Linked DNA regions of Homo sapiens. The protein of the gene in region 2 purifies or fractionates together with the protein of the main gene of each other region. This does not show direct contact. Each region holds a gene or a part of one and is shown on either strand. Other genes may lie near its edges.

What was found.
Region 1: the proteins of ANKRD22 (region 2) and NUDT2 purify together in Homo sapiens (affinity purification with mass spectrometry; one large-scale study listed by BioGRID and IntAct). This does not show direct contact.
Region 3: the proteins of ANKRD22 (region 2) and ESYT2 purify together in Homo sapiens (co-immunoprecipitation; 2 studies listed by BioGRID and IntAct, with this or other methods). This does not show direct contact.
Region 4: the proteins of ANKRD22 (region 2) and SLC7A2 purify together in Homo sapiens (co-immunoprecipitation; 2 studies listed by BioGRID and IntAct, with this or other methods). This does not show direct contact.
Region 5: the proteins of ANKRD22 (region 2) and LCLAT1 purify together in Homo sapiens (co-immunoprecipitation; one large-scale study listed by IntAct). This does not show direct contact.
Region 6: the proteins of ANKRD22 (region 2) and BTAF1 purify together in Homo sapiens (co-immunoprecipitation; one large-scale study listed by IntAct). This does not show direct contact.
Region 7: the proteins of ANKRD22 (region 2) and POLE purify together in Homo sapiens (co-immunoprecipitation; one large-scale study listed by IntAct). This does not show direct contact.

Annotation. Positions count from the first base shown.
Region 1 is NC_000009.12:34,328,286-34,332,368, forward strand, and holds the start of NUDT2 (bis(5'-nucleosyl)-tetraphosphatase [asymmetrical]), read left to right. Parts: upstream 1-1,283; 5' UTR 1,284-1,314; intron 1,315-3,282; exon of another isoform or gene 3,283-4,083. UniProt on the Homo sapiens protein: Catalyzes the asymmetric hydrolysis of diadenosine 5',5'''-P1,P4-tetraphosphate (Ap4A) to yield AMP and ATP. Exhibits decapping activity towards FAD-capped RNAs and dpCoA-capped RNAs in vitro.
Region 2 is NC_000010.11:88,827,845-88,831,344, forward strand, and holds part of ANKRD22 (ankyrin repeat domain-containing protein 22), read right to left. Parts: intron 823-3,500; coding exon 715-822; intron 1-714.
Region 3 is NC_000007.14:158,826,710-158,830,671, forward strand, and holds the start of ESYT2 (extended synaptotagmin-2), read right to left. Parts: upstream 2,801-3,962; 5' UTR 2,710-2,800; coding exon 2,380-2,709; intron 2,312-2,379; exon of another isoform or gene 1,473-2,311; intron 1-1,472. UniProt on the Homo sapiens protein: Tethers the endoplasmic reticulum to the cell membrane and promotes the formation of appositions between the endoplasmic reticulum and the cell membrane. Binds glycerophospholipids in a barrel-like domain and may play a role in cellular lipid transport.
Region 4 is NC_000008.11:17,495,893-17,499,887, forward strand, and holds the start of SLC7A2 (cationic amino acid transporter 2), read left to right. Parts: upstream 1-1,195; 5' UTR 1,196-1,345; intron 1,346-3,995. UniProt on the Homo sapiens protein: Functions as a permease involved in the transport of the cationic amino acids (L-arginine, L-lysine, L-ornithine and L-homoarginine); the affinity for its substrates differs between isoforms created by alternative splicing.
Region 5 is NC_000002.12:30,520,246-30,523,745, reverse strand, and holds part of LCLAT1 (lysocardiolipin acyltransferase 1), read right to left. Parts: intron 1-3,500. UniProt on the Homo sapiens protein: Exhibits acyl-CoA:lysocardiolipin acyltransferase (ALCAT) activity; catalyzes the reacylation of lyso-cardiolipin to cardiolipin (CL), a key step in CL remodeling.
Region 6 is NC_000010.11:91,993,270-91,996,769, reverse strand, and holds part of BTAF1 (TATA-binding protein-associated factor 172), read right to left. Parts: intron 3,077-3,500; coding exon 2,923-3,076; intron 2,236-2,922; coding exon 2,126-2,235; exon of another isoform or gene 2,113-2,125; intron 402-2,112; coding exon 200-401; intron 1-199. UniProt on the Homo sapiens protein: Regulates transcription in association with TATA binding protein (TBP). Removes TBP from the TATA box in an ATP-dependent manner.
Region 7 is NC_000012.12:132,623,262-132,625,802, forward strand, and holds the end of POLE (DNA polymerase epsilon catalytic subunit A), read right to left. Parts: intron 2,510-2,541; coding exon 2,384-2,509; intron 2,159-2,383; coding exon of another isoform or gene 1,919-2,158; exon of another isoform or gene 1,755-1,918; intron 1,734-1,754; coding exon 1,644-1,733; intron 1,550-1,643; coding exon 1,436-1,549; 3' UTR 501-1,435; downstream 1-500. UniProt on the Homo sapiens protein: Catalytic component of the DNA polymerase epsilon complex. Participates in chromosomal DNA replication.

The DNA.
Region 1 (4,083 bases), on a different chromosome or scaffold from region 2:
ACACTTAAAATGTGACAATAGCTGCCGGTCACTAAGAAGCTAAAGGGAGATAAATTATCTTGGCATACAGCAACAGAATGGTTTATTTTAAGCAAAGACTAAAAGGAGTCTAATAAAATTATTGGGAGACCAAGGCTAAAAGCCACAGATGCAGGAAGAGTTGCAGCAACCAATCCAAAAAAGTTTAGCCTTTCACAAAGAGTAGAAAGGCCAGCTGTGGACTGTGTGTGGACTTTTAGGTCCTTTTGCATTGAAGATTAGGGTGGCCTCCCCCTAGCCTCGAAATAAAAAATCGTCTCTGAAGCAGAGAGACAACAAGGCAGGGCATGAAGAGGAATCCAATCTATTTCTTGTAAATTAAATTCAACTCAACAAATATTTCCTGAAAATCTACTATGTGCAAGACATTGTGAACGATGCTTGCCTTACCTCAAAGGCTTCAAAATTTTATGGGAAAAGGGAAGCGAACGGGCTTCCCGGAAGTAAACAACCCAAGGGCGAATAGAAATGCCCTAAAAGAGGTGCCGGTCAGGCTTATCGGTTCAAAAGCAAGAAGGCTTTGGGACTCAAGAGTTTAGTCTCCCAAAGTGAGAGAAGTGGCGTTCAAGATAATTGCTGAAGAAAAGGCAGAGATATGGGGATGAAAGATAGGAAAGTAGGTGAACTTTAGGAAGAGCCAAGAGGGGCCAACTCTCGGTTCCCTCACAACTGCCAGTTTCCTCCCGCGCTCAGCCGACGTCACGCGCACCCGTGTCCGCGGGCAGGCGCCACGGTTCCGGACCAGACCTACCCCTCCTCTATTCTCCCCGCCCTTTCTCACCTCGGTCCAAACTCCTCGGTCTGCCCTGTCTGAGAAGAGGAGAAGACAATGCCGTCGGGAGTGAGCCCCAAAGCCCGCAACCTAACAGTCCCGTCAACCCGGGAGCCACCGGCGGCGGCCAGGCCGCATCTCCATGGCAACGCCGCCAAGCGCCAGTTCGAACGCCCGCGCTGTGGCCCGCGCGTCGCCAGTCCCGCACCGCCCACCAATGGGCATCCAAGGAATCGGTTGACGTTCGTTGACTTCTCCTCTGGAAGACCAATCAGAGGTCTGAAGAAACCGTGGGCGTAACTCTCAATTTCCGACCTTCAGCCAATCGTTCCGCTTGAGGGAAGATCTCGCGACGTTTCAGTGTGAGACGCGCACCTTTGAGGCGGGTCGAAGATCCTTCTGCCGAATTCTATTGATGGGCCCAAGCGTAACCAGGCTCTTCTGATTGGCCGGTGTACTTCAGTTTCCGTCCAAGGTCCGCCTCCTACCTCCTTCTGCTTCGGGTGAGTACCCTTAAGGGCCCACTTGATTTTAGTTCTCAGTGGAGGAAATGAGCCTTGGAGCGATGGGAATCTGCCTCTGGCAAACCTCTGGTCGCTGCAGGGCCCGAGAGGGATGCGCCCTCCTCTAAGTTGGCAGTGAGGTGTGGGCAGGCCAGGTCCCATCCGCTCTCAGGACCTCAGTTTTCCTGTCTGCACCGGGAGAAGGGAGGTTCCCTGACTCTGAGCCTTGCTTGTCCCCGTCGGAGTGGGGATAGGGTGGGTCGTCCAAATCCCAGAGGCGGGAGAGGTCCAGGTTTAGGGCCCAGAGGCCCAGGCGCCGAACCTTCCCCTCCCTGGGCCTCAGTTTCACTTGTTGCTACCCATTAAACCCCGCCTGCTTTCCAAAAGAGATTTTATGTTTTCTAATTGCTTCAGTTATTGAATGGATAATATCGTGGCAGTTATAGCAGAAGTAAAGAAAGTCGAACAAGAGCCCCACCGCCTTAAACAAACAAACAAAAAAGGGACAGCGTAAACAATGCAGGCCGGGTGCGGTGGCTCACGCCTGTAATCCCAGCATTTTGGGAGGCCAAGGCGGGCGGATCACGAGGTCAGGAGATCGAGACCATCCTGGCTAACACGGTGAAACCCCGTCTCTACTAAACAAAATACAAAAGTTAGCCAGGCGTCGTGGCGGGCACGTATAGTCCCTGCTACTCGGGAGGCTGAGGCAGGAGAATGGCATGAACCCAGGAGGCGGAGCTTGCAGTGAGCGGAGGTCGCGCCACTGCACTCCAGCCTGGGCGACAGAGCGAGACTCCGTCTCAAAAACAAAACAAAACAAAAAAAAACTGAATGCAATCAAATTGTCAAATGTAAAACGCTATTATAGAGTTAAGGTTAAGATCATTGATGTTAGGAGTCAGGCAGACCTACATTTGAGTCACTTACCCAGACATCTCTGAGCTATAGTTCCCTTTCTACTCTTCTGAAAAATGGCAGTAATGCCTCAGCGGGTTGTTGTGAAGATTAAGTGAAATAATGAAGGTAAAGCACTTGACACAACGCCTGGCGAGTAGTAACTTCTTAAAAAATGGTAGCGGCCGGGCGCGGTGGCTCACGCCTGTAATCCTAGCCCTTTGGGAGGCCGAGGCGGGCGGATCACGAGGTCAGGAGATCGAGACCATCCTGGCTGACACGGTGAAACCCCGTCTCTACTAAAAACACAAAAAATTAGCCGGGCGTGGTGGCGGGCGCCTGTGGTCCCAGCTACTCGGGAGGCTGAGGCAGGAGAATGGCACGAACCCGGGAGGCGGAGTTTGCAGAGAGCAGAGATCGCACCACTGCACTCCAGCCTGGGCGACAGAGGGAGACTCCGTCTCAAAAAAAAAAAGGTAGCTATTATTCTTATAATAAGAACAGGCAAATACACTAGTCAGTGCGTTGGTGTACTTTTTGTAACTGAGTACCCAATTTTGCCCAAAATTAGTCAGTTAAGGGAAAAAAGGTAATTCTTACTAATAAGGAAACAAATCCATTCTTCAAAAGATAAATTATTTTTCTAGTTTCTATATTAAAAGGAATTTATGCTGTGGGACCTTATAAGGAATATATATACTGTGGTGAACAGTGTTGAGCAGTTTAACAGACAAGATGAAAAGTCATTTCTTTAAAACAGAGAAGCTTTTTGATGATCTTTTATGACACACGGGTAACAGTAACTCATATATTTAGTACCTCTGATAATGTCAGACCCTCTATATATGTCATTTATAAACTCCACAACAACCATGCAAAGTAGGTGTTAACTTCATTTTACAAATGAGGAAGTTAAGTATCTTGCTCTAAGTATCTTGCTCTATTAACTTCAATAGCTAGGCCTTTCTGACTGCATAGACAGCCATGCTTTTCTGTGTTTCTGACTAAAGGAGGATGAAAATGCTTGGAATACCAGACAGATGCAGGGGCAGGTTGGACAGCTTGACTTACCTAAATTGGAGGGAATGTGAGCTGCAGAGGTACCTATGGTAGGAGCAATATCTTGCTCTAATAGAAAATTTTCACCGTGGTCTTGGTAGAGAAGGGAGGAGAAAAAAATTGTTTTAATAAAAATAATTTTAAAAAAGTAAATTCCCACCTTGGGAAATGAAGAGATAGGATGAGATGATCACTGAACTTTAGACCCATCTGTTCATTTATCTTATGGATAGACTATAGCACTTCAAATTCAACTTGTCCCAAACAAATGCTTCACTTGCACCCCCTCCTCCACCCAGGCACTCAAACCAAAGCCTTTCTCTTTCCCTTGGCTTATGAAACATCTCTCTGTCCCTTAGACAATGAAATATCACTATTGTCCATTTTACTTTGAAATATCTCTCAGATTCATCCCTTCCTTTCCTTTCTCACAGCCTCTGCCTTGATCTAACTGGAATCATTTGTTAACTGGTCTGTTGCAATAGACTTGTAACTGGTTAATCTCTCTGCCTCCAATCTGTCCTAATTCGTTCCCCAGCTTGCTTGCAGCTAGAATATCTTTGTAAAATGTCAGTCTGACCAAATTATACCCTTGCCTAAAACCAGTCAGAGGCTTCATTGCCTACAGAATATAAACTAAGCTGTTTACCAATGAGATGTCATTTTGTGCTTGAGGGTGTTGCCCACACTCCTCCCTTTGCTGGCAGTGCCTTGCATCCGCCTCCCTTCTGCCTGGTAAACTAGTGACCCATCAGAATCCTTATGGGGTACCTTGTTAACCTAAAGATGCTTCTTTGCTGCCTTTCCATCTTA
Region 2 (3,500 bases):
CTCTTGAGTCATGTCTGAGAAGTGGAACTGGGCACAAAGGAAACTAGATGGATAAAAGTGAGTAAGTCAGTGCAGATCTGTTACCCTATTGGGAAAAAAAACCAAAAACCATCTCAAGCTTCATCTTCTACTCCTCATATGACTGCATCTCTATACCAACTACATCTTTCTTTATTCAAGAAAATTGCTGTCTGCCAAGATTCATCCAAGCATGAAGAAATTCATCAAGGTGAAAATGGGCTTAAATTCTCAACAAGTATCTTCTGTGTGTGTCAGCTTCTGGATGCAAACTTTTAGGATCTGTTTTTCAACACACCACCAGAGGAGTACTTAAAAATCAGTAAGTCAGAAAGATAAATCCAAAAACACAAACTCCTCTTTTAAAAAAAGGAGAAAAAAATATTAGAAGGGGTGTTTTTTAATATTCAGAATTTTTTTGCTCCCTTCAGAAAAGTCTTAGTTAAGGTTAAATTATTTTTCTAAATCAACATTGCATGGATTATGTTACCATTGATTAACTATTTTTGCTAGCTTTCTTCTTGCTGTACTTCAATTATAGCATTGGATGTATGTTGAACATGTCAATTACAGAATACAAACCAAAGGCTTTTTTTGTTTTTATTTCTTTTCAACATCTCACTGGCCTGGCAAGAGTCAATGAGTCACACCATCGATCTCCACATTTGCCCTTTGCTCTACAAGTGTTGTACTCACCATGAGGAAATACCCAATAAGCAGAACAGGCATTAAGAGGATAATTAGTAGATAATCAATGAAGGTAAATTTTTTCTTCACAGCATAATGCAAGCAGGTTCTCTCTTTCTAAAAATTAAGAAAAGGATTCTTTACTAATAAAGCATTTCAATTCAAAATTTATTCAGATGGCCATCTCAAAAAGTTTAGTTTGTGCTTTTTGTTTTTCCGGTACCCATGGCATCTTTTCCTGTGGGATACATCTGATTACTGAATGCGGCTTTCCATGGAGCAGAACAGAGAACTCGGTCCAGTGTAAAGGAAAAGCTAGGGAAGGGCTCCTGGGAGTCAACAAAGGTGAAATGTACACAGCAGAGCTCATCAGAAGACAGATTCTTATACCCACTTAGTTTTTGGAAAAAAAGATACACTGAGATATAAACTTAGGACTGAATTTACTATGAAAATTGATAGTTATCCCTTAATCATCTACCATGTGTACGATTATCCATTTTGTGGTTTGTTCATAGGAAAACTCTTAACCACATGGCTGTTTTTCATGTTCCTTCATGTGCATAGTCTAGAAGAATGCATATAACTCAATTTTATTCTTCAAATATGTGAATACTTATCAGGTAATAGATGTCAGCTTCCAAGGGTTGTGGGAGATGTGAACTCTTAGGGCCTCATAATCAAAGATGGACAGAAATATGCACAAATAAATATAAGGCAAAACAGAAGGTGGTAATTGGAATACCAATCAAATCAGTAAGAGGAGAGGGAGCCCAAGAGAAAGAAAGGAGGTTAGTTTCCACTTATGCAAGGCACTGTACCTAAATAAGAACACTTTTTGTTTTTCTAATATGAAGGCATTTATATTTTCTGTAAAAAAATTTTAGAAACTAGAGAGGAACATAACGATAGAATTTTAAATTGCCCATTATTATATTAAATGGTCCAGAGTTAACTGTTGACATTTTGTTGTATTTTCTTCCAGTCTTCTTAAATGCATAAATGTGGAATTTTGAAATGTAGAATGATATTGCATATGCAATATCATATCTTGCTTTTTTCAGTTCAGAAACGTATATTTAGAATATGTACATTTTTCCATGCAATTCAATATTTTTAAACATATGATTGTAATGGCTGCATGGCTTAGTATTGAGTGGAACTACTCTGATGTATTTAGCTAAGCCCTGCCTTTTGAACATTTCATGGTTTTTGAGGGTTTTGTTTTTGTTTTTGTTTTTCTGTGAGACAGGATCTTGCTTTGCCACCTAGGCGGGAGTGCAGTGGCACAATCCTAGCTCACTGCAGCCTTGACTTCCTGGTCTCAAGCGATCCTTCAACTTCAGCCTCCAAAGTAGCTGGGACTACAAACATGTGCCACCACACCTGGATAATTTTTTACTTATTATTATTTTGTGTAGAGATGCGGGGGTCTTGCTATGTTGCCTAGGCAGGTCTTGAACTCCTGGTCTCAAACTATCCTTCCACCTTGGCCTCCCAAAATGCTGGGATTCCAGACATGAGCCACTGCACATGGCCCGTTTCAAGTTTTAAACTTTTCATTTTTATAAATAATATTGCCTGAACCTGCTCATTCATAAATTTTTGTCAACATTTCCAAATTTGTCCTTTGCCTACATTTCTAAAAATAGAATTCCTGGCATAAAAAGTATTAATGCTTTTCATATTGCGCTATCAAATTGTGTTCTAATAAGACAATAATAACTTAAACTTTCTGATCAACATTTGTTTTCTTTTTTAATCTTGGTCAGTTTGACAGACAAAAACAAGGATCTTTATGTTTTAATTTAATTTGCTATCAATAGAATCCATAGGCTTGTGCTTCTGAATCTCCAGCAGAGCTTTTTGTTTGTTTGTTTGTTTTTAAGGTGTTTGTTTGTTTAGTGTTTCTGGAAATAATTTATAAACAGATTTCAGACATGAGAAATCACAGGTTCAAATTATTAATGTACAAATATTAATATTTGGAGAAAATAAAAATATTAAATGCTAACATTAGAAACATTTGAAAGTGGAAAATGCAAACCAAAAACTTCTACTGATAAAATCTATTAATCTAATGTATCCACTAAAGTCTTTTTCATGGTTTTTATGATACCAGAAAATCCCAGCAGGCTGGCTGAGGCCCTCCTCTTCTGCAAAGCGGAGATAAAAGTGTCTCCTCAGCCTTGCCCATGGGCTAACGTCTCCTCCCTCAGTTTCCTAACGAGCGCACCTCTTAAAAGAGCGCAGGAACCCACAGACATCTGTCTTCTGGCACTACCACTCACTGCAACTCCACATATCTGGTTTCACAGCAGTGATCTACAGAGATCCTATTATAGTCCACGATGTTGCATATCTGTTCCATTCAGCACAGGCATGACTTGCTTTTAATCGCAACCAAACCAAAAATAGTAAGCATAAATAAAAAAGTCCAGTAATGATCAATTTTCTGATAATACATTGTTACTCCTGATGAGCTAGTCTCCAAATGACTTAGAAGGGGCAAGGGGGGATTTCCAGTGTTTTCTCGCCTTGAATGCATATAAGTGGGTACAGGACAGTCATAATGATTGCAAAAAAATGGCTTAATATTTATTCAGTGTAATTTAAATATTGCCTTCACTACGATGCAAATGCTAGATGTTCAGAAAGGGCTCCACAAGGATTTTCACAGCAATACACACATATTCTTCTCTTTCTTGGTCCTGAAGGCTCCAAAGTAGCTAATATTGCATCTTTAAATATATTCTTTACACCTTTTTGTGTGACTTCAAGTAACCTCTGGCTCA
Region 3 (3,962 bases), on a different chromosome or scaffold from region 2:
ATTCGGGAGGCTGAGGCAGGAGAATGGCTTGAACCCGGGAGGCGGAGGTTGCAGTGAGTTGAGATGGTGCCACTGCACTTCAGCCTGGCAACAGAGCGAGATTCCGTCTCAAAAAAAAAAAAAAAAATTTCAGTTCTTCAATAGGGCAGCAATTTCATCTGTACAGTCTGTGTGGCCGGGCGCGGTGGCTCACGCCTGTAATCCCTGCACTTGGGGAGGCCAAGGCAGGCGGAACACAAGGTCAGGAGTTTGAGACCAGCCTGGCCAACATGGTGAAACCCTGTTTCTACTAAAAATACAAAGATTAGCTGGGCGTGATGGTGCACGCCTGTAATCCCAGCTACTCGGGAGGCTGAGGCAGGAGAATCTTTTGAACCCTGGAGGCGGAGGTTGTAGTGAGCCGAGATCACGCCATTGCACTCCAGCCTGGGCAACAGGGAGAGGCTCTGTCTCAAAAAAAAAAAAAAAAGAAAAGAAAAAGAAAATCTGTGTTTCACAAAGATTTTTAACAAGCAAATTTGATATTAGCCAATAACCAAGTATCTATGAAAGTCAGCATCATCACTTCCTGCAAATTTCAGCACTGATAACATTGCTATGTTATCAATATAACATAGCAATGGATGCTAATGGACTCTGTTTTTAGCTACTTTTTAGTATTATGCATCTTAGTGTAATATAGACACAAAACGTCACTTTAAAGTCCTTTTCCATTTCCAAAGTGCACCTCCTCTGTTCTTAGTTTTCCCCACCTCGGTTCCTCTTAACTTCCTTTTTCTACACACCCCTCGGTTTTTCCCGCCGCTAGCTAAAAGCTGCACCATGCCAGTTACCTTGGTTCTCCAAATATGACTCCCTCATGCTCACCACGCATCGGCAGAACTGTACATTCCCAAGCTCCTTACATTATATTCTTACTCCAGTTGCAATATGACGTCACAAAGTAGCATCTACTACCTTCTTCTTGTCTTGGGCACGCCTCCTTTCTAATTCTTGTTTGCCATCTGTGTCATGCCTTACTTCTCAGGTGTCTCATGACTGGAAACAGGGACTTTTCTCCTCTAAGAGAAAATGACCCTTCCGAAACCCACTGCTGGTCACCTTCACCCCAAAGTTTATATTAAGCCTAATGGAAGAATCATTAAAATCCTTTCTTGCAGTGTGAAACTGTGAAGCCAAGTCATGGCTAAGAAAGAATTAGGGAATGACAAGAAAAAGATTTGAAGCCAACTCTTCGTGTCTATAGTCCATAAATATACGAGGTAGAGAACTGCCGGGTTAAAAATAAAATAATACCATGACTCTTGTTATTGCTGCAACTCTTCCAAAACTTCCTGCCACACACACACACATTCACACTGGATTCAGGTCGATCCCATATAAAAATGCTCAGTCTCACAATTATACTTGCAAAAAAACTGAAACAATCTTTCAATTATCTAATATCTCCACATCTTTCGAGAGACACTTACTGCCCTTGAAATGCGTCAGAAACAACCAAGACACGAGTGCGTCTTCTCCCGGTAGAAGAAAAAGTTAACTTCTCCCCCACCAGCTGTCATTACGTTTTTTAAAAAACAGAGAGAAGGAAAAGCTGAAGCCACCCGGAGCATTTCCAGGCCGGCAGGGCTTTGGGAATGCGCACGAGAATCGCGCTGGGCGCTCTGAGAGCAGAACCGGCCGCTCAGGCCCCTAAGGAGACCCCGCGGGCGGCACCAGGAGGAAGCGCGCGCTCCGGGCAGGGCCGCGGCCGAAGAGGGGGCGCCAAGCCCGGTACCTGCCGCTGGCGCTCGGGGTCTGCAGGCCGGGGGAGGGAAGCGGGCTTTGTGAAGAGGGGTCTCCGAGAAAGCCGCGCGGGACGGCGAGGGGAGGCTTCACGAGGGCAGACGCGCCCCGGACCCGGAGCCTGGGCGGGCGGGGAAGCGGAGAAGGGGACGCCCGACTTGGACGGAGGGAGGGCACGGAGCACTCAGGACTAGGGCGGGAGCGGCGAGCAGCGGGCGGCGGCCCCAGGCGGACAGGTTCGCAGGGAGTGGGCCGGAGGCCGGGGCGGGGCTGGGGTCTGCACTCGCCCTAGCGGGCAGGTCGCCAGCAGGCTGGGAGTCGGGGCCGGGGGGCGGGGCGGGGTCTGCACTCACCTAGGTTGGCAGGTCGCAGGAACCGGCCCGGGGGCCGGGGCTGGGGTCTGCACTCGCCCAGGCGGAAGGGAAGCGCCTGCCTGGACCGGGGTGGGTGGGGGACTACGAAGGCGGGAGCCGGGGCAGGGCTGGGGTCTGCACTCACCCAGGCGGCAGGTCGCGGGGAGGGGAGTGCCTGCCTGGACGAGGGGAGATCGGGACTGGTGGTCAGGGGTCGGGACGGGCAGGGGTCTGCACTCACCCAGGCGGGCAGGTCGCAGGCGCGCACCCCCAGGCGCACGACGCGCTCCTCGTCTTCCAGCAGCGCCAGCGCGCGGCACAGGCGCAGGGCCTTGAGGCCGCGGCTGCGGCGACACCAGGCGAGCAGCGCGAGCGCGAGGAGAACCCAGCTGAAGCTGAGCCCCAGGTAGCCCAGCGCGTACACGGGCAGCAGCAGCGCGAAGCTCCGCGCCAGCTGCGCCAGCAGCCCGGGCAGCTCCACGCTCAGCACGCCCCCGGGGTTCTCAGGCGCCGCGCGGCCCCCAGCCCCGCCGGCGCCCGCCTCCGGGCCCTCGCCCCGGGCGCCGCTCATCGCCCCGCAGTGCCGCGCTGCCCTCCCGGCCGAGGCGGGCTGGGTGCTCGCGCTGATCCCGGGCGGCTCAGCCCCGCGCCAGCGCCCCTCTGAGGGGACGCGGCTCCGCCGCACGCCCGCCTCCGCCCGGGACGGTGGCGTCATCACGCGGGGCGGGAGCGGCGTGGGCCTGGGGCTGGCACGTCACCGGGAGCGGGCGGGGTGGATACTGACGTCATCGCGCGGGGCGGGCCGTGGGCCGGGTCGGAGACTACTGGAGTGGGCCGGGCAGGCGCACGACGTCATCACGCGAGCGTTGTGTCTCGGCTGGCGGGAGCCGGGGACGGGAAAGGAGAGTGCTCGGTGCGTGGGCTGGGCGTGCCTGCGTCCCCTCGAGCCCCACGGGGCACCCTCCCCACTTGCCTGTGGCCTCGGAGCCCGCGGGCGGTTTTGGCTCGGCGTCGCGCCCCGAGGCGGCTTCCGGGTGCGTGGCTGCGCTCGCCGAGGCCCGGGAAGTTGCCGTCGTCAAACCCAAAGGCTGACCGCCTCTGGGAGCTGCTGGCAAACGTGGGGGTGCGCGGCCGCTGAGCGCAGCCGGGGTGGCGGTGGGATGAGAGGGCGGCGTCCCTGTTTGCGGTCATTTTGCGGCCAGGAGGACGGGTGAGAGGGCGCCGCCCGCCGGAGGTCGGACGGGCGCCGCTGGCGGGAGTCCTCCGGTATTTTTCGGTGTGAGGTTGCCTAGCCAGTGTGCAAGGTTGTGGCTTTTGCGGAGTCTCTCGGGACGGTCTTGTTATCGGGCATTCCGGCGTGAGAACGCTGCCTCTGGGGCCCTTCCCACCCTGCTTGTCAGGGTTTTAAACACAAACGACTCCGTTGTGACCTTGACAACTCTCACACAGTTCAGTTGGCTTTTAAGATGCCTTTAATCCCAAAAGTCCTCCCTGAGGGGTCTGGTAGTGCCGGGCAAAGACCACCGCAAGCGCCCAAGGGACGCTGTTGACACTCGGGAACTCCACCCCGGGCACCACGCAGCTTCGCCGAAGGTGTTAATATTGTGGCCAACTATGAATAGCTGTTTCAAACGACTAATTTTGGGCCTTTCCTGTGATTCCTGAGGTCACTTTTCAGTTAACTCAAAAACACAACTATTGATCACTTTACTTTCCAGTGAATTCAATCGAGTTAATTATATTTGTTCTGTAGTTTCTTTCAAGGAAACTCCAAGCCAAACAGTAGCAAAGAACATCCTACTTGACTGTTTTTGAGCATATTCA
Region 4 (3,995 bases), on a different chromosome or scaffold from region 2:
ATACATTGAGATTTTGTGTGTGTGCTATCTTCTGGAATGAAGCCCCACACCGTTTATTAGATGATCTTGGGGATATATGTCTTGAAGGGAAGAATGATTTAGAATATCACATTAAAATTGTATATGTACTGTGAGGCAGCAATACAAATCTGGCACTTTGCCAAAGTTATTACTAGTAGGTGGGTTAAAGGGACGTTTACTCCAATACTATGCAAAGTAAAGTGGACCTTTCTGTCAAACAAAAATAGTAATAGGCCGGGCATGGTGGCTCAAGCCTGTAATTCTCAGCCTGGTGGCTCAAGCCTGTAGTTGTCAGCACTTTGGGAGGCTGAGGCGGGAGGATAGCTTGAGCCCAGGAGGTCGAGGCTGCAGTGAGCCACGATTGTGTCACTGCCCTCCAGCCTGGGCGACAGAGTGAGACCCTGTCTCTAAAGACAAACCACACACACATATACACACACACACTGACACACACTTATTGTTCAATTCAGTGCGTGTTTTGCTTCGTTTTGGATGAAAATTAACAGGCTTTCACATTGTGACTTAATCTTATCAGAGACTCCTAAAGTAAACAATAGCGCAGTAGGAGAAACCCTGATTGTGTAACTTCTGCTCTTGCTCCCCTGGAAATAATGTCATTTCCTATAAACCCACCCCCAAACAATCGTGACTACGTATTCATACCACTGGAGTCTTCCAAAATAGCAACTGCACATTATTTATCAACGTTTAGTTTGCATTTGACAAAGCACATCCACCTGGGCTTCCATTTATCATTGCTATTATTATATTTTATTATTATTTTCTTATTTCCAAAATCTTTGTAGAATGGAAAGTAAACGGGGGGACCAAAACCCCACTTAGAACTCTGCTTAGAAGATTCGGAAATGCCCTTGAGGTTTGGTCCTCCCAGGAGAGCACGAAGTTTATCCTCGCGCGCAGCCTCTCTTCCCCGGCCCGCGCCCACCGGCCTAGCCCGGGGCTAGCGCCCGCCCACGTGTGCTCGGCTCCAGGCAAACCCCGCTGAGCAGCGGCCGCACACCGCCCACCCCGGGGATTGGTCAGCGCGGCCGGGGCCCGGCGGGAGGCGGGCTCGGGGTCGCGTTCCGGGAGCGCGGAGGAGGCGGTGCCGCCCGGCCCCGCGCCCCGCCCCCGCCCCGGGTGGCTACACAGAGGGGCGCCCACGTGCCCAGCCCTCCTTCTGCAGCGCGGCCGGCGGGCGCTCCTCTTCGCGGGACCAGCGAGGCGGCGGCCGCTGCTCCAGCGTCCCCCAGCCGCGGGCCCCCGACGCGCTGCAGCCGGCAGCCCACCGCCGCCTTCTTGGCGCGACCCCAACCCAGCCCCAGTAAGTTGCTAGGTCTCCAGCCCCGCCGAGAGGCCGCGGGCGAGGGGCAGCCCGGACGCTGGGGCCGGCGGGGAAGGAGCGGGGCGAGGGCGCCCTGGGGCCGGCGGGGAACTAGAGGGTCGAGGGCTCCCGGGGACGAGTCCAGCTGCGCGCAGCTGCCCTGAGGCCGCGCTCCAGCGAGTCTTCGTCAGGGAGTCGGGGCCGTGGGCTGGGGCTGAAGCCGTGGACCTTCGTCCTCGGGGCTGCGCCCCGGAATGCGCCTCGCCTCGTCCGGTCCCTGTGCAGCCGGCTCTGCCCGGGGACTTCGGGGACCGCTGGAACTGGGAGAGGGGCTGGCACGGCGACTTCGCGGGGACCCTTCAGTCACTATTTCCAGAGGAGCTCGGCGCACCCCTCTCCGGGTGGGCAGGCTGAACCTCCTGGCCCTGCACGCTGCCGGGGTCCCCGAAGCCGCCTTCGCTCCTTTTCGGTTCTTGGCTTAAATTAGAAAGCCGGCTTGGAGCGCTGGAAGCCCCTTCACATTCTGCAGGGGACCTGGTAAAATAGCCCGTCTTGGTGTTTGTATTGGGTATTTTAAAGTAACTGGGTGCCTTTTAAAATCCGTTTGAGATGGGCTGTATTTTATAAGCCCGTTTCATGAAACGCTGTTCTTGAGGCTTAGAGAATCTCCCAACCCATCACCCCAGAGTACCTGTCCGTTCAGAAAGTACCTTTTCATCCTCTTTTGACGCTTACATCCAGTCTATGGAGTAAGGTATTGAGAGATTGTCATCTTCAACTCGTCGAAAAGAAATATGCTCAGCAAAAGCCACAATCATATGTGGCTTTTGAAGTGGATATAGTGCCTGGATTTCAAGAGAAAAAGTACTCAGCCTCTTCAGAGTTGTAAATATTTGTGCAAAACTGGCTAAAGCCTTTAGGTGACTAATTTTGGACCAGTAATAAGATTTATCTAGACGTTTGTGCAGAAACACTAATCCTTTTAATGAGAGGATATCGTCAGATCTTATTCAAATAAGAGCTCTCTGAATCCCATCCAGGGCCGCCTGGGTTATAAAATTAGAATGTATGTGGCCTTGACTTGATACTTTTTCATTCTTGCCTGAGCTAGTCTTTAAAAGTTAATAATTATCTCCTCCGGAAGGTGAAACATTCTGTGTTTGTAATCTTTCTCTAGGAGATGTATAAGATGTGAATATTCTGTATTATGTACCTTGTTAGGATTGCTTTGTAATTAGTAAATCCTTTTTTATTTTAATTGCACTGAAGCGTGACATGAAATGATCTCTCAGTGCAGAACACAGGACTTCTTCCCTCTCCTTTTCCTACAAAGTTGCTAGTTGCCTGCTCTGGGAGGCCACTTTATTGTGATTTTTCAAGTTTCTTCCCTCGGCCCACACTTTGTTTACATTCTGTGCCTTCATCTGGGAATGGTCATTTACCTTAAGGCATTTTAATCTTTTAGGGTGTGCCATGGCCTTGGAGACCAGAGTAAAGCGCTGTGGTATCTGCGGGGATCAGTTTGCAGAATCCTTGGCCTCCTAAGCAGTGGGCATAGCTCTTTTCATTCCAGAATCTCTGATCATTCCAGAGTCTCTCCTGTCACTGGGCTTAGGAGCCTGGGAAGGCGAATAGAAGCTAGCTGGGGAGACAGGGGAGCTGTGGCAGTTTAAAAAGCCTGATCTTGCGCTGGAGTTTTTCATCTTGCATTCTCATGTATCTTTGCCTTTTGAACACATGTGCCTGAAGAATTTTAAAGTTCACGTTTCTTGCTTTGCACTGCAAGCACACTCACCTTTGCAGAGTGGAAGTGCCTTGTCCCCATTCTAGGTGGTCTACCTTCTGTTCTCTTTTCAGACCTCCTGGCTTAAGCCCTTGTTTCTCCTGGCTGTTATGGCCAGACCCGGAGTCCCCGTTGTGCCCATTTCTTCTCTTTTCAGTCCTTCCTTTTCAAATGTTTTTTCCCAGAAGTCCTCTGGCAACTTCTCTATTTCACCTAGCCTCTGTCTTCTCTTGTTTTATTTTTCCCTCTCTCCCTCCCTCTCTATCCCTCTTTCCCCCTCTTTCCCTCCTTCTCCCTCCTTTCTCTCTTCCTCTCTCTCTGTCTCTCTCTCTCTCTCCCCCTCTCTCCCTCATTTCTCTCTCCCTCTCTCTGTCCCTCTTCCCTCCATTCTCTCTCCCCCCTTCTCTCTCTGTGTGTTCAGAGCCATCTGCTGGTTTTACTTTGGTGCCCTTTGGTGGACAACTTTCAGAACAGAATCTTGGGAGCACCTTCATGTTGCTGTTTGCTTTATTTCCCCCAAACATGTAGATATGAACACACTGATTTTAAAGACTCTTATAGACTACCTACTAGATGCCAAACATTTAGAACAAAAGCAAAAGCTTTCAGTGGAATATATTTCTAAATACTCACATATTTAGTTTTGGGTGCATCATTTGAATGCTTTGTCATCCAAATGAATCCTGAAAAACTTAGTTAACTAAGATTTCACTTAAGTGATAGCACTTGTCTAAATGGGCTTGAAAATCGAAGCTGTTAATTAATTTCTAAAACTTTAATCTGGATATTAAAAACCATATAGATACAACCTTGAATGACAACAGAAAACTAATGGAATTGTTCTTGTCATTGTCTTCCATTTTAATA
Region 5 (3,500 bases), on a different chromosome or scaffold from region 2:
CAGACACGCGCCACCACACTCATCTGATTTTTGTATTTTTAGTAAAGACACGGTTTCACCATGTTGGCCAGGGTGGTCTGGTTCTCTTGACCTCATGATCTGCTCGCCTCAGCCTCCCAAAATGCTGGGATTACAGGCGTAAGCCACTGTGCCCAGCCGACTATTTTTAAATTTCTACTGATACTTGACAGTACGTGTACAAAATCCTTCAAAGTACAAACTGAATAAATATCAACTAAGAGCTGGCTTTTTGCTAAACTCTAGACCTAAACTTTAAAGAAGTGGGGTAACGGAGTAATAATGGTAGAGAAAAAGGCCACTGGAAAGCAGCATGCTGAACAATTCCCAGAGCTCACACATGGGGCCTAGAGTGGTCTGTGTTACCACCTATCCTCAACTTTGTTTTCTCTGAGGCTCAGGTCCTCCTCTTTGCGTTGATGACACTATAGCTAGCTTCTCCCCAGAAAAAAAAAAAAAACCTACGAACATCTTAATTTGGTATTGTTAATGCCTACTTCCTTTTATACACCCACCCCGCCCCCCAGTCCTGCAACGCTGCTGCTCTGTTTGAAACCCTGTAACTACCGTTTTCTATCTACTGTTTTTTTTTCTGCCAATTAGTGATTAGCTAGCTCTGTTTAACACTCACCCCTCAACTCCCTGCAGAGCTACACTTCACGTTGTATCCATATATAATGCTTCCCTTATCAAGGCTCTGGCATGCTTCTTCCTCACCAATTTCTGATTTGATGTGATTAACAGAAAAAAAATAAATTAGCTATCATATAATAAAATATTTTCATTATGCAGTGATGAAGCTGAGGCTCAGGAGAGTTAAGAAGACTTTCCTAAATCCACACAACAAATTAGTAGCATCAAATCTTTTCTGCTTACTGCTTCTTCTGCTATATCATGCTCTCTTTCTCCTGCGAAGGGGCCAGAAATTAGCCCTGAAATATGTCTCTAAACTCAGACTTAAGCAGGTAGAAAGGTGTGTGTCACATGAATATACTGGGATTACTCAGACCAAATCTAATCTAAAATTACTTCTATCCTACTTCTATTCCTTCCCTTTCAATCATTTGTTGATTTTCAATGATTCAATAAACATACAAAGATATCCCAATTACCGTGTGCCAGGCACTATGTTAGTCATCTGGGGATTACAACAGTGAATATGACAGAAATTGCAAAGCTCTCACAAATCTGATGGTCTCTCCATCTCTTCCTTATGAGCTCCTATGTGACTCTGCATTTAATCCAGCCCTATTCTTTATCTTCTTCCAAGTCTCAAGAGTTTGATGGACAAACTTGGTTCCAAATTATGCTAGCTATACACTTATTTGGAATAGCTAAAAAAAAAAATTTTAAAACAATAAAACCACTGACAATACCAGGAGCTGACAAGGATATGCAGCAACCAGAACTTGCAAACATTGCTGGTGGGAATGCAAAATGGGATGGCCACTTTGGAAAAGTTTGGTAGTTTCTTAAAATCCTAAATATACACTTACAATAAAACCCAGAAATTCTACTGAATATCCAAGACAAATGAAAATGTATATTCACACAAAAACCTATACGTAATTATTCACAGCAGCATTATTCATAATTACCAAAAACTGGAAACCAGCCAAATGTCAGTCAGGGAGAATGGATAAACAAAACCGTAGTACATCCACACAATGGCATACTACTCAGAATAACGACAAACTACTGATCCATGCAACATGTTGAGTTAATCTCAAATGTATTATGCTGAATGAAAGAGGCCAGACTCAAAAGATATGATTTTAAAATCTTTTACTGGATTATTTCATTTATATGACATTCCAGACAAGGCAAACCCAAAGGATAAGGAAACAGATCAGCGGTTGGCAAAGATTACAAGTAGGGAGATGGTTTGACTACAAAGAAACAACACAATATAAGTTTAGGGGGTTGGTCCAGCGGTGGCTCATGCCTGTAATCCCAGCATTTTGGGAGGCCAAGGGGAGCAGATCACGAGGTCAGGAGATCGAGACCATCCTGGCCAACATGAGGAAACCCCATCTCTACTAAAAATACAAAAATTAGCTGGGCATGGTGGCGCGTGCCTGTAATCCCAGTTACTAGGGAGGGTGAGGTAGAAGAATCGCTTGAACCTGGAGTCAGAGGTTGCAGTGAGCCAAGATGGTGCCACTGCACTCCAGCCTGGTGACAGAGTGAGACTCCCTCTCAAAAAAAAAAAAAAAAAAAAAAAAAAAAAAAAAAGAAGAAGTAGTTTAGGGGGTTGAGGAAACTGTTCTATTTCCTAGTTAGGTCACATTACAGCAAAGCTGTCCTGATCCAGACCCCAAAAGAGAGTTCTTGGATCTCGCCCAAGAAAGAATTCAGGGTGAGTCCACGGTGCAACCTGAAACCAAGTTTATTAAGAAAGTAAAGGAATAAAAGAATGGCTACTCCACAGACAGAGCAGCCCTGAGGGCTGCTGGTTGCCCATTTTTATGGTTATTTCTTGATGATATGCTAAACAAGGGATGGATTATTCATGCATTCCCTTTTTAGACCTTATAGGGTAACTTCTTGACATTGCCCTGGCATTTGTAAACTGTCATGGTGCTGGTGGAAGTGTAGCAGTGAGGACCACCAAAGGTCACTCTTGTCGCCATCTTGGTTTTGGTGGGTTTTGGCCAGCTCCTTAACTGCAACCTGTTTTATCAGCAAGGTCTTTATGACCCGAATTTTGTGGTGACCTCCTATCTCATCCTGTGACTCAGAATGCCTTAACTGTCTGAAAATGTAGCCCAGTAGGTTTCAGCCTCATTTTACCCAGCTCCTATTTAAGATGGATTTGTTCCAGTTCACACATCTCTGACAGTCACAAGACTATACACATTTGTGAAAATCCATAGAAAGTATATTTTTTAAAAAAGTGAACTTTACTGTTTGTAGATTTTTAAATAAATTTTTAAAAAATTATGCTATGTATATAAAAATCTGACAATATTTACTATTCTCTTATAATACGGGGAATTCTAATTTTCTGGATTATTTCAACTATAGTAACACCTAAAATGTATATAGCTTTTAAAATATTTCAGGCACTGTTTCATATATTTTACATGCCGACCTGTTCACCAGTCACAGCAATCTCATAATGTAGGTATTTTCATTACCTTAATTTTACATATAACGATACTGAGGCAGCAAGGGGTTAAGGAACTTACTTAAGGCTACACAGCTAGTAAATAACAAAACTGGAACTTTAAGCCAGGTAACTTGGTGTCAGAGTCCACACTCAGTCTGAAATGTTACACTACGCTTCCTTTTCAAGCCATGTATTACATCTGTAGTTAAATATACACCTATTTTTAAATAGCCTATAAAATAAAGATGTTACAATTATAAACTAAATTTTTAATACCTCATACAAAACTTATTCTGAATTTTAGAATTTATACAAACTTAGTGAGATAGCCTTATGTCTTTCTTATCTTACTGTTACTGGCAGGTGTTTG
Region 6 (3,500 bases), 3.2 Mb from region 2:
ATCATAAAATGCAAATCAGTTTGTAACACATTTGTAATAAAATACAAAAATATTTCAAAATAAGATGTAAAAAGAATAGGTATTTTTTGGAACAAGGCAGGTTATTTATGTGCATATTAGAACACATCAATTTCATTTTAATTATCCTTAAGTGAAATGAATATAATTCCTGAACAGTTTGTCAAATGAAAAAGGATACAGGCAAGTGCTTCAATTGCACCCTCTTGTTTGACACTGTCATCAATTGCTCCCAGCCACGGAAGAACCTTCTCCAAAAAAATATTCATTGTTTCCATGGTAGCTATTTTGCTCATGACACCTACACAACGAGCAGCCATGTGCCTCACTGCAGTACTGGGGTATTGAAGGCACATATAAAGATGTGGCAAATGCTGGACCAACTAAAAACAAAAAGTTAATGGCAATTAGAATTATTAGGAAATACTGTTTAATATGTAACTATAATAGCCCATACTCAGGAAAGTTTTCAATATTCTAAGTGACTCTAAAAATATCTCCAAATACTTCAAAACATTACTGCCAAAACATTCTCAATAGAAAACTAATCCAAATACAAATTAATGTATTACAACTCTTTCAAAAAGAAGGGAAAAAAAGGTATAGAACCTCTGCTCTGCTCATATCATCTCTTAGGCATATAGGAACACTCAATTCTTTCCAAAATTAACAGGAAACAAACCAAAAAGTACTTGGCAAGATTCTCCTACTGAAGCTGGAAAACAGCACCACACATCACCAGCTCCCTCCAAATTTGGTAGCACTAATTTAGATTTAGGTACATAATTTTTATTCAGTGGCTTGAGTGTTCCTGATTTTATTCTAGCACCATACTTTGGTAGGTATCGTCCACTGTAGCTTCCTGGCTTACCATAGGTGTTATAATCACAACAGCATCACAACAGCACCTTACTAAATGTCTGCTACAAGGAACACCAGAATTAATGCTGATGAGAGCCAGGTATCTGTTCAACAGTTTGATGTGCCTTACAGTTCAGCTGAATGCATGTTGCTAATTATGAAGATTAAGAGCGTACAGATGGACTCTACTTTTTTTTTTCCTTCTTTTTTTTTTTGAGACTGAGTCTCGCTCTGTCGCCTAGGCTAGAGTGCAGTGGCGCGATCTTGGCTCACTGCAACCTCTGCCTCCCGGGTTCCAGTGATTCTCCTGCCTCAGCCTCCCAAGTACCTGGGACTACAGGCATGTCCCATCACGCCCGGCTAATTTTTGTATTTTTAGTAGAGATGGGGGTTTCACCATATTGGCCAGGCTGGTCTTGAACTCCTGACCTCGTGATTCACCCACCTCGGCCTCCCAAAGTGCTGGGATTACAGGTGTAAGCCACCACGCCCGGCCTACTTTTCTTTACTAACAGTAAATCAGCAAAACTTTTAACAAGTAAAAGGACATACTTTATTACTATGTACAAAAAAAAAAATCCATTCTTCTCCACCCTCTCATAGATTCTCCCTTTTGTGTTAAATAACAATAGAGAACTGGGCTAATACCCTTCAAAATGGGGTAAATTGCAGACAGCTTCCTATTGCAGAGATATGAAAAGAATAATATTCTTCTATGAAAAAAACCAGATAATTCTCTATTTTCCTCCTCCCTCTGTCCTAATTCTTTTGTAAGAAACATTTTAATAGTTTTTTAAAAAAATCCCAAACCAGTGTTCTATCTTTGCCACTGACCAGCTTCACCTTAGGCAGGTGACTCCTTTCACCTTTGTACTTATCTAGGAAACAGATTTCATTATATATGCTTTTCCTTTCTTGGAGCTGTATTATTAGGATCATCTGGATGAACAGGGCTGCAGTTTTCTTTCCTATTTACATCTGGCTCCTGTGTCATCAGAGTCCTTTCCTCAATGCCCCCACATTCTAAGCTTCCAGGTTGGGTTTTCTATTAAATTCAAGCAGCCTGGTCTACATCAAAGCCCACAGGAGTTGCACTGTTAGTAAAGGAGGAATCTAGTTATACCACAGCAAAGAAAAATGCAATTAATAAGGATGACATCAAAGCTGTACCTTTCAAACCTTAAGACTTTTTAATAAGACCACTTGTTTTATTTGAAGAAATATTACACTTGCATTAGTTAGTTACCAAGGGATGAAGCTCAGAATCCATTGAAGCTGCTGCTGTTTCAAAAACCTGCAGAGAATTCACCAATTCTTGAGCAGGGCTATCTCCCTTATCCAGGAGGGATTTTCCATCTGTTAAAATATATTGTCTGTATTATCTGGCAAATAATTTTTCAAAATCTAGAGCACACAAAAACTTTTAGCACTTTTTCAGCTAGCATAGGAGAGTCAATTTTGCTTCTTAGTGTTAAAATTAAATGCCATGACCTTAATTTAAGTGCTGGGGTACTACATGTAGAGCAACCAAAGAACTTAAACATAGTGATCCATTTCAAGTATCTCTTTAAAAACAATTTTTTTTTTTTTTGAGACAGAGTCTCGCTCTGTCATCCAGGCTGCAGTGCAGTGGCATAATCTCGGCTCACTGCAACCTCCACCCCCAGGGTTCAAGCAATCCTCCTGCCTCAGCCTCCAGAGTAGCTGGGACTACACGCCCAGCTAATTTTTGTATTTTTGCTAGAGATGGGGTTTTGCCATGTTGGCCAGGTTGGTCTCAAACTCCTGACCTCAAGTGATCTGCCCACCTGGGCCTCCCAAAGTGCTGGGATTACAGGCATGAGCCACCATGCCCAACCCAAATATCTCTTTTATAAAATAAAGGTGTGTGTTTTTTTTAAACCAAGTTTCCATTTTAAAACTTACCAGCTGGTCTGGAATAAACAGGTAGAGGCATAGAGGCATTTTTATTTTATAAGGATATATTCAATTAATAGACATTAAAATTTGTTAAAAACTGGACTCATAAAAATATGTGTATACCAAAATTATTTATGTCGATTGTATTCCTCAATGGGCCAACCATAGCATCCCAGAGATGTGGCAACTTCACTGCCATTTCACCACCAAAATGCTTTACTATAGTTGTCAAAGCAAATTCAGCTCCTCTCCGTTGTACCAGGTAAGGCTTCTGGGCCTTAAAATTAAATGTTAGATAAAAACAGAATTTCAGAAAAAATCATAATACATTTAAAATTTTAACAAAAGAATTTAAAAGTCACCATCTAAGAATTCATAATGTTATCATTAACCAAGTAAGCAATTATTAGACATGTTTGTCTCAATTATAAACATTTCCCAATAATTAAATTTACAGGGGCCTACAACACCTAACTAGATTTTTGTGACCAAAGTAAAACACTTTTTTGGGGTTGAGGATAAGGAACAGACGGATATGTGCTGTTTCTAGAGATAGTCCTAAGTGACATTTTTTTTCCTCCTTCTCTCTACCTCAAAGAAACTTGTCAGCTAGAGAGAAGATAGATGAAGTGATGTGTCCTTATTTACATTCACTTAAGGGATAGTACAAGATCATCTGTTTAAGCTAACCCCAAGATTAA
Region 7 (2,541 bases), on a different chromosome or scaffold from region 2:
CGGCCTGCACATGCTGTGTGGCTCACAAATATCCAGCTCATTTTTGGAGAAACTGGCTCTTCTGGTTGAGCCGCTGCTTGGGAACCAGGGCCAGAGCTTCCCGTTTCTGACCCCTCCACCACTACTCAAATGCCCGCAGCTAGCCTCACAGTGAACCCAGGCTGACTGGCGCCCACGGCTGCACCGGGCGACCCCTGGTCCTGCTAGGTGGCCTTCCTGGGGGACGAGCGGCTGTCCCCTGGCCCCATCACTCCTCATTCCTGAGGGTTCTCCAGATTCGCTTCCAGGAATGAAGCCTAGTCAGCCAGCCTCCCTCCTCCCCTGCTTGCCCTAATTTGATTTGATCTCCACTCTGGAGGCCTCAGCACTCCTCCATCTGAGCAGGCATCAGGTTTCTCCAGGCAGGCGGCCCCAGCAGCATCCAGGGGCCAAACACGTGCCCAGTGGTACCCAGTCCCCGATCTGAGGCGCTCTGCACAAATACACAGTGACAACCTAGAGAAACTTCAGTATGAAATACAAATAAAAACAAAGTGTAGCAGCGATGGCCTCAGACAGTAGATGGCAGGGACAAACTAAGGCTGGCTCTGGGCCAAAGACACGAGCCTCCTGGGGAGCCTGTGGGGCCCCCTCCCTCCTGTGAGGCTCTCGTCTGGGGTGTCTGCATTTCTGATTTACATTTCATACTTGTTTGGTGCCCTGTGAAATTGGCCTTTCTTCTTTCTGCTTCCAGCTGGTCCTGTGTGGAGGTGAAGGACAAGGGCTGCAGTGAGCCAAAAGTGAGGTGCACAGAGGTCTTGTTTTCCTGAGGCTGATAGAGGGTTCCCTCTAGACCCGGCTCCAAATAAGCAGGGCTCACAAGCCAAAATCCAGATTCTCACGGGTTAGGGTCTGGATTCCTGGGGAAACCAGCCCACAAACTGCTCCTGTGAGGCTGTGGGGCCAGCCCATTTCTCCATGCAAACAGGTGAGACTCCAGCCCCACCAGGGCCTTGGGAACCCGTCTCGTCTCAGAGCCCAATCTCAGGGAGCCAGAAGCCCCCAGGGGCTTTTCCTCCCTCTGGGAGGCAGGACAAAGAACTAGGGGCACCTAGAGGACGCTCCCACCCCACCAGGTGTGGTGCAGGAAGCAACAGAGGCCTGGAAAAGCATTCACTGCGTGAGAAACGGCGCCCAGGGCACTCGCAGCCTCGCTCACGGCCTGCTTCTTCAGGTGCTCTGGCGAGGCCAGGGCCACATCCTGCTCCCGCTCCCTCCTGTGACGTCTGAGCTCCCTGAAAATGGTTTTCTTTGGTTTCCTCCCCGTTCCCTGGCCTGGGGTCACAGGTTTGGACAGTCAGGGTGGTCAGTGGTCTGGTCACTGGAAGCACGGGGATGTGGCCTTGGCATCAGGAGGCCTGGCACGGACGCAGAGGCACCCGGGGCCCGGGGCTGGCTAATGGCCCAGCTGTGGGTTCTTCTGCAGCAGCCACTCCAGGGTCTCCAGGAGGTACGACATGCCGTAGTGCTGGGCAATGTTCCGGAATATTCCGATCTGTTCCATGAAGACCTGCAGGAATAAACAGGCACAGTGAGACCCCAGTCCACTCAGAGAGGAGGCCAAGGAGGCCAGGCTGAGCCGAGGCAGATGAGGGAGAGCCCACCTGGGTGTGGATGGTGAGGGCGAAGTCTCCCGCGCAGCTGCAGTACACAGGCATGCTGGTCTCCTTCACCCCGCGGCACTTCAGGCAGACCTGAAAGGGAGCAGCCCCGATGGGCGCCAGCCCTCCCGCGCTGGCCAGACCTGCCTGCTGCTTCTTCACAGGCTCGCGAGACACATTCGTGGGCCCATCAGTAAGCCTCGAGCCCCTGCTGTGTGCAGCCAGCCCTCGGTTATGAGTAAAATGCACGACCTCATCCCACGGTGCCAGCGCCTTCCCTACACCCACCCTCGCTGTGGATGTTCCACCCCAGATGCCCAGTCCTGAGGCCTCCTCCAGGCCCTGCTCACTCCCTCCATCCTGCAGGCCTGAACGCCGTGCACCACCACACGGCAGCTTGGCGCGTCCCCCAGCCTCTGCTCAGATGCCCCTCGGCAAGACCTTCCTGTGGCCGAGCTGTGCAACTCCCTCTTCCTCCTTTCCTTCTCTTCACACTTGGGAGTGTCTGCCTCCTTCCGCTAGAACGAAGCACCCACAAGGCCAGCTCTTGACCCAAGGCAGGTGCTCAACCAGTGTGGACAGAACAGTCCATCAGGCTCAGGGCATGGACTGGTCTGCAGGGCAGGCCCCTTGGAAGACACCAGGGCGTGCCTCAGGACCTGCACACACCCCGGCTCCCGGGAGTGCACAGAAACCCCCCTGTGGACTCCAGGGCACACGGGCAGGCGGCATGCACGACTCACCAGGTCCTGCAGGGTGAAGGCCATCAGCTTCTTCTGTAGAACTTCCACCAGCGTCATCTCGATGGCAGAGGAGTCGTAGGGCGCCTGACAGTTGGAGCAGAGCCACTGAGGCAGGACCGCCCCATCCTAGGCAGAGCAAGAGTGCGAGAGGTCACCAG